Homo sapiens: one gene and its partner. The protein of the gene in region 1 purifies or fractionates together with the protein of each later gene. This does not show direct contact. Each region holds a gene or a part of one and is shown in the gene's direction. Other genes may lie near its edges.

Evidence for each region.
Region 2: the proteins of ZBTB32 (region 1) and KBTBD8 purify together in Homo sapiens (co-immunoprecipitation; one large-scale study listed by IntAct). This does not show direct contact.

What each region holds. Positions count from the first base shown.
Region 1 is NC_000019.10:35,702,883-35,707,380, forward strand, and holds the start of ZBTB32 (zinc finger and BTB domain-containing protein 32), read left to right. Parts: upstream 1-1,675; 5' UTR 1,676-1,741; intron 1,742-4,498. UniProt on the Homo sapiens protein: DNA-binding protein that binds to the to a 5'-TGTACAGTGT-3' core sequence. May function as a transcriptional transactivator and transcriptional repressor. Probably exerts its repressor effect by preventing GATA3 from binding to DNA.
Region 2 is NC_000003.12:67,008,008-67,011,725, forward strand, and holds the end of KBTBD8 (kelch repeat and BTB domain-containing protein 8), read left to right. Parts: coding exon 1-378; 3' UTR 379-3,203; downstream 3,204-3,718. UniProt on the Homo sapiens protein: Substrate-specific adapter of a BCR (BTB-CUL3-RBX1) E3 ubiquitin ligase complex that acts as a regulator of neural crest specification.

The sequences.
Region 1 (4,498 bases):
AAGGCACTGCCCCCCTCTTGTGTCTTTCCTGTCCCTGTACACTTCCAGGCTTCCAGGCGAGGCAGAGTGAGCTGTGCCAGCAATCGTGGTGGAGTGGGACAAGAGAGAAAAGGGAGCTGTTCACAGGCACCGAAGCCTGGCTGGCTCTTTTTTTTTTTGAGACGCCGTCTCGCTCTGTCTCCCAGGCTGGAGTGCAGTGGCGCGATATAGGCTCCCTGCAATCTCCGCCTCCCGGGGTTCAAGCGATTCCCCTGCCTCAGCCTGCCGAGTAGCTGGAATTACAGGCGCCCGCCACCACGCTCAGCTAATTTTTGTATTTTTAGTAGAGACGGGGTTTCACCATGTTGGTCATGCTGATCTCGAACTCCTGACCCCAGGTGATCCGCCCTCCTCGGCCTCCCAAAGTGCTGGGTTTTCAGGCGTGAGCCACCGTGCCCTGCCTGGCTGGCTCTTTTATTTTATTTTTATTTATTTATTAGAGACAGGGCCTCACTGTGTCGCCCAGGCTGCAGTGCAGTGGTGTGATCATAGCTCACTGCAGCCTCGACCTCCTGGGCTCAAGCGATCCTACTACCACCTGGACCTCTCAAAGCCCTGGGATTACGGGCATGAGCCACCGTGCCTGGCCTTGGCTTGCTCTTACGGGCCTCCCAGCCAATCAGGTGTGGCGGCAGCCTACACACCCCCTACACACCTCACAGATGGTAAAGGGTTGAGAGAAAGGTGACAGGGTTTGCAAATGGGAGCTACTTAGGGTGGCAAAATAGAAGCAAGAAAGGCAGGTCAGGCACGGTGTCTCACGGCTGTAGTTCCAGAATTTTGGGAGGCCCAGGTGGAAGGATTGCTTGAGCCCAGGAGTTCGAGGCTGCAGTGAGCTATGATTGCACCATTGCACCCCAGCACCGGCAACAGAGGGAGACCCCGTTCATAAAATAAAAATGAAATAATAATTTTTTAAAAAGCCGGGCGTGGTGGCTCACGCCTGTAATCCCAGCACTTTGGGAGGCCGAGGCGAGTGGATCACGAGGTCAGGAGATCGAGACCATCCTGGCTAACATGGTGAAACCCCATCTCTACTAAATGTACAAAAAATTAGCCGGGCGTGATGGCGGGCGCCTGTAGTCCCAGCTACTTGGGAGGCTAAGGCAGGAGAATGGTGTGAGCCCGGGAGTCGGAGCTTGCAGTGAGCAGAGATCGCGCCACTGCACTCCAGCCTGGGCGACAGAGCGAGACTCTGTCTCAAAAAAAAAAAAAAAAAAAAGGACAGTAGTACTCCTGAGCACTTGCTGAGGGAGCCTCCAGGGCTGTTCAGGTGAAGGAGAATCAGGGTCCAGTCTCTTCGTGGAGAGAGTGGGAAAAGGCAGACTCCACAGCAGATCAACGCTGGGGCCCGGCTGGAAATCAATGAAATCTCAGCCTAAGAGGCCTGAAGCCTATGGACCAATGAGACTCAAGGCTCTGCCCCTTCACAGCCAATCAGCTGCGGGTCCGAGGCAGACGCGCGGGAGTGGCGCTGTCCTAGGTGCCTCCCAGGCTGCCCAGCGTGCTCAGCTGGCCTGAGCGGGAGAATGCGGCCCGCGCTGCAGCCAATCAGCGTCCGCCTCAGGATCCAGGGGTGACCACGTGCGGGAGCGTTGCGTCCCTGGCCTCGCTCCATTCCCCACTTTTAACGGTCACTCGGCCTTAAGCCGTCCTGGGTGTATGTGAGGCTGAAAGGGAAGGAGGAACAGGGTCTGGGCCGGTGAGTGCCATAGTTTTTCTTACTTTACTTTCTTGGGCTTGGGCCCGGCCCAGGCAAATCTGGGGTATGGGGGCTTGACTGGACCTCGTTGATGATTGGGAAGTGCGGGTTGAGGGCTTTAGCCCTTGGGGCTTTCCTCTGCCTTTGAGAGGCTGGAAATGCAGCCTCCTGGCCACCTTTAGGCCTAGGTTTGGCAGAGGCTAAGCCAGCTTGCTCTCTGAGTTGGTCCACGGCCCCCGAGGCCAGCCTGAGTAGGAAGGGTGTTGTGGGGAAGTTGGAGGTCCTTAACTCTGCATGAGGTATGGCCTCCGGACAATGAGAGCTTATCAAGGGTCTCTGGACTGAGCCTGGATCCGGTGACTGAAAGGAGAGGCCTGTGGATCTCCAAAGGTTATGCAGGGGCTGGGCGCGGTGGCTCACGCCTGTAATCCCAGCACTTTGGGAGGCTGAGGCAGGTGGATCATTTGAGGTCAGGAGTTTGAGACCAGCCTGGCCAACATGGAGAAACCCTGTCTCTACGGGGTTTCTAAAAAAAATTACCTGGGCGTGGTGGCACACGTCCGTAATCCCAGCTACTCAGAAAGCTGAGGCAGGAGAATCGCTTGAACTCATTGAACTCAGGAGATGAACGTTGCAGTGAGCTGAGATCACGCCATTGCACTCCAGCCTGGGCGACAGAATGAGACCCTGTCTCAAGAAAAAAAATGAAAAGAAAAAAAAAGTTATGTAGGAAGTCACTGGCCAAGAGATGAAACTAGTGTGCACATGAAGGTTTCCTGGGGTCTTTGGAGCCAGCCTGGGCTGGGAGTGAATGTTCTGGACTCCAGGTTGAGATGTTCTTGGCAGATTTCCCAGTATGGAGTCCAGGTTGGATGATGTGGCCAAGAGGTTAGGCCAGTAATCCTCTGGAGATTCTAGGGAGAAGGATTCTGAATCCCAGCCGAGCTGTTTGCGCTGGATGAAGTATTATTGCCTTGTGGTGGCTCTGTACAGAACTGGGATTGGGTGGCCAGGCGTGGTGGCTCACACCTGTAATCCCAGCACTTTGGGAGGCTGAGGTGGGTGGATCACCAGGTCAGGAGCTCGAGACCAGCCTGACCAACATGGTGAAACCCTGTCTCTACTAAAAATACAAAAATTAGCCAGGTGTGGTGGCAGGTGCCTGTAATCCCAGCTACTCAGGAGTCTGAGGCAGGAGAATCCCTTGAACCCACGAGGCGGAGGTTGCAGTGAGCAGAGATCGCACCACTGCACTCCAGCCTGGGCAACAGAGCAATGCTCTGTCTCAAAAAAAAAAAATTAATTAAAAAAAAAAAAAAGCAGGGCCAGGCGTGGGGGCTCACATCTATAATCCCAGCACTTTGAGAGGCCAAGGCGGGCGGATTACCTGAGGTCAGAAGTTTGAGACCAGCATGACCAACATGGAGAAACCCCATCTCTACTAAAAATACAAAATTAGCTGGGCGTGGTGGCACATGCCTGTAATCCCAGCTACTAGGGAGGCTGAGGCAGGAGAATCGCTTGTACCTGGGAGGCGGAGGTTGCGGTGAGCCGAGATCGTGCCATTGCACTCCAGCCTGGGCAACAAGAGCGAAACTCCATCTCAAAAAAAAAAAAAAAACTGGAATTGGGTCATGTCTGGAGCTTTTCATTCTCCCTGTCCCACTCTTTCCCATGCCTGTTCTGATAATTCCTAGAAGATGAAGATATCAGGCTGTAGGTGCGGGGCAGGTGCATGGGGAGGATGAACATCGTAGTGGAGCACAGGAAGAGGTGTGTGAGATATTCTCCTCTTTAGGAAATCACCCAGGTTTTTGGCAGGGCGTGGTGGCTCACACCTGTAATCCTAGCACTTTGGGAGGCCGAGGCAGGTGGATCACCTGAGGTCAGGAGTTCAAGACCAGCCTGGCCAACGTGGTGAAACCCCATCTCTACTAAAAATGCAAAAAATTAGCCGGGCATGGTAGATGCCTGTAATCCCAGCTACTTAGGAGCCTGAGGTAGGAGAATCACTTGAACCCAGGAGGCAGAGGTTGCAGTGAGCCGAGATCGCGCCACTGCACTCCAGCCTGGGCAACAAGGGCAAAACTCTGTCTCAAAAATAAATAAGTAAATAACATAAAGGAAATCACCCAGGTTGTCTTTACTGATGATCTTTTTTATACTCATGGGGCAGGGTGTTGATACCTAGTTTCATTCAGCTGTTCAGTGGTATTTATGCTTTCGGAGTGCCTTCAGTACACCCAGAGTTCTTTAACCAGGGGTGAGGGTGCAAGGAGTGGCTTATGAGTGGACTTCAAGGAAGTCTAACCCCGAAACCAGTTAATATTGGGGCAGCTCAATTGGCCATTCCCTCTATGGTGTGGTGGGGGCCCGGGGTGCTGGCACATGAAGTGTGCAGTTAATCCCAGCTCGGCAGACAGCCACCAAGCATGATGGCACATGCCTGTAATCCCAGCTACTCAGGAGGCTGAGATAGGGGGATGACTTGAGCCCAGGATGTCAAGACTGCAGTGAGCCATGATTGTGCCACTGCACTCCAGGCTGGGTGACAGAGCAAGACTGTGTCTCTAAAAAAAAAAAAAAAAAAAAAGAACAATTAATGGTATGCATGTATATTATGAGGAGGGGAGGGTAAAGAATAAGCTAGACGATAGTTAACCTCTCCAGCCATGAGGCTCAGAGTAATCTGTCAATCTCTTGTCATGCATTCATATGCCAAGTGGTATAAGTGTCTACCATTTTCTTTTTTTTTTT
Region 2 (3,718 bases), on another chromosome or scaffold:
GCTGTATACAAGGACTCTATCTACTACATAGCTGGAACCTGTGGAAATCATCAACGTATGTTTACTGTAGAAGCCTATGATATTGAGCTAAATAAATGGACTCGTAAGAAAGACTTTCCATGTGATCAGTCCATAAATCCATACCTTAAACTGGTACTTTTCCAGAACAAACTCCATTTATTTGTTCGAGCTACTCAAGTGACTGTTGAAGAACACGTCTTCAGAACCAGCAGAAAAAATTCCCTTTACCAATATGATGACATTGCTGACCAGTGGATGAAAGTGTATGAGACCCCAGATCGGCTCTGGGACCTTGGCCGGCATTTTGAATGTGCTGTTGCTAAACTGTATCCTCAGTGTCTTCAGAAAGTACTCTAAATGAGTAGCAGGCCTTAGTGCATCACTGGCATCTCATTCTTAGGAAACTTGTCTTTGATACAAAAGAGTGCTGACAGTATTTCAGAAAGCTGAGAGAGTTTTATACATGGAAAATGGGTATGCTTAAAGATTGCAGGGTAGGGAGGGATTTTCCTTCATCCTTGTGACATTTCATTTCAGTAAGGAAAAGATAACAAAGTGCAATTATCAGCATTTTTTTTTCCTGGCATAAAATTAATCATTTCATTTTATAATTTTGTGATAAATAGTAACTGAGGTACCAGATGAATCAGGACAACTATGCACTCTTATAAGAGCATTTAGGGTATTATTGGGTAAAGACGTCTAAACTTGTTTGATGTGACTTTTAATTTTAAATACGGGTAACAATCTGAGGCAATATCACTAGGACTTTAGCTGTGACCTCTCTAACACAGAGAAGCACTAACTTAGATCCTCATTCTTAATATTTATATGTATCTATTTTTGTGTACTGTTTTCAAGTGTACTGAGATTTAAATGTGTTCTATTATTAGAGTAGATCGAAGAAAAAATTAGTCTCAGAAAGAGCTTTTAGTCTGATTGTTTCCATTTCCCATGTAATTTTAAGTTAAGCTAAAGTTTTAAAGTGGCAGTTTTCTGTCGATGACTTTTTCAAGTGCTAACACTGTCTCTTTTGTGAAAATCTGGAAAAGTGCTCATATTCACAGGTGGCTGGTGCTAGTCTAACTTAATTCATGTGTATAACTAGATGGATTTAAATGGTCTGAGCCTATGCCTATCTTTCAAATTGGTGTGGATTTCATGGCCATAGTACTTTACCTGTTGAACTCTTGTGATTTCACAAGATTCTCTACTTATGTGATAGGAGGGTATGGCCAGTTATTCATCTAACTGGACTCAATCTTAGAATAGTAGGAACATTATACCCAGTTTGCACTAACATGGGCCATTTGTAGCCCAACCTTCTCTTCCATCTACCTGTCCATTCATTATTGGTACAAGGAAAGGTAACTTATTTCTCTTCTGCACAGAGCATAATGTGAAGTTTTATACCTACTTTTAAAATTCTGCTTTCCAGAAACAAAATTCCTGCAGTGGTCTAATTTAATGTCTTTAAGTTTCATATTACAATTAAAACCTCATTTTTTTTTTCCATTTTTGCACTTAACAGTGATGAATACTTTTACGTTGGAATCCTCCTTCTAGCTGAAGGTGATTGAAAAGGAAAAGAGTGAGTGAACAGAACCATAGCTTTCTAGGTACTAAAGCATTTTTTGCATTTAACTGATGAAATTTCTAACAATCATCAGTTAGGAATATTAACATGAAGGATAAACCAACTTATTTGTATACCTAAGGCAGGCATTTGGATCAGTAACATGTTTTACTAAGCCTAGAGTAATTCGTAAAGGGTATAAGCATAGGACAGATTTTGCCCTCAATCACAATATTTGTATTCACTTGAAAGCAAACTGGCATGGTTCGTATTTTAAAAATCTTGCACAAATTGTAATGTGATACTGTGAAACAAATTGAAAACATTGCCTCTTTGCATCACATACCTCGTTTTTCAGAAACTTTCCAAACTGCTTTACATAGACCTCTACAAGTAGGGAATGTTTTCTGAAGCAGAAGTTAAAATGGACAGCATTTCTAGAATTAACATTTTAAAATCTAGTCTTAGCTAGATATGTGGTTTCTTCTTATTGGTGTTGATAGTATGTCTGTAATCTCTGTATAAACTTTGTCAACATTTTTACCTCCCCAGTTTTATCTTCTGTTTTGTTTTTGTTTTTATCATCATGATGTTTTGGAGTTATTACTGTGTATTTTAGAAATCATTCTTTACAGTTTTGCATTGCTGAGGAGAGAGAAAAAACAATTTTTTTGCAAGAGATGTTCATGTAATTTATTTTTGAAAGCTTTGTTGAATAAGATTTCCTGCCGCTTTTTGACAATCTTGTGTATTTAGAAAAATGTATTACTTGAAAACATGACATAGAACATTGAGTTAGCAATTTACATGGGCTGTATGTTATATAAGAGAATGACATACTGTGGCTAATTCAACAGTAGATTTATTCTTTTAGCCTGCACAACAGTTGATCTTTTGGCTATGACAATTTGTATGGAGGGTACGATCTAAGTTAAGTGTGTCAAAAGCAAGGCTTAGGATTTGTTATGGGAGTAGAATATATATTGAATTTTGTATGAAGAACTATTTGTTTAAATTATATAGCTGGGATATTTTGCCACTGTTAAAATGGATTCAGAAGAGGTCCTAGAAAAGTAAGATTAGTGACATGTGTGGGTTTATATTTAGATATTTAAGGTGCATTTTCATAGTGTGGTAAGACCTTAAGTAAAAGGCACAATGGGTACTACAGAATTAAAATGTAGGTCTAACATAATGCCAGTTCCACTTTAACTTTGTTTTTGCATTTGAAGAATGTATGTAGCACTTTCCTATATATTTGTCACACATTGAAAACTGGACTGGGTATAACTATGTTATAGGAAAGTAGAAATTGTATTCTTTATTTTCCATCTTTGTTTTCTGTTCTACAAAGTTGATGCTTAAGCATCAAGCTGATTTTATTGGTCATGAGAACAAATGGATGTGATCATGAAGGAATCAGATTCCCTATGTAAAGCAGTTTAAAATGGAATTCAATGTTCAGTGCTCAGGTATGTAGTAAGTACTGTAGTCCTGTGGGGGCAAATGTGTAGATATTTTTAAACATTTTGCCATAATTGCACAATTTTTTGCATTTTTACCTGATGTCATTGTTTCTTATAATAAAACCTTTTCTGATTGAAAACTTCCAGTGTTGCAAAGTGATATCTGACTAGTGAGTGTTGCAGAATTAAAATCTGGTAAAAAATCATGAAATACCTTATGTCATGATAGAATGGAATGAGATTTTAATCTATTGAATACCTGTCCTCTGGTAAAAAATGAACTACTTTATGTATATAATACTTTTTAAATTCTAAAGCAAGTTAGTTCACTTATATTGGTAAATTCTTTGTTCTGTTTGTTCTGGCCTAAAATCTTGTTATGTTTGACTCTTTTGTGTTGGTCCACTTTGCATTACCGTAAAGGAATACCTGAGATTGAGGCCTCAGGAGGCTTTAGCTCATGGCAGAGGGTGAAGCGGGAGCAGGAAAGAGAGGGAGCCAGAGAAAGTTGGGGGAGGTTCCTGTCTCTTTAACAATGGGATCTCACATGCGCTCATTACCATAGGGAGGGCACCAAGCCATTGATGAAGAATCCACCCCCATGATCCAAATACCTTCCACTAGGCCCCACTTCTTCCAACACTGGGGATCACAT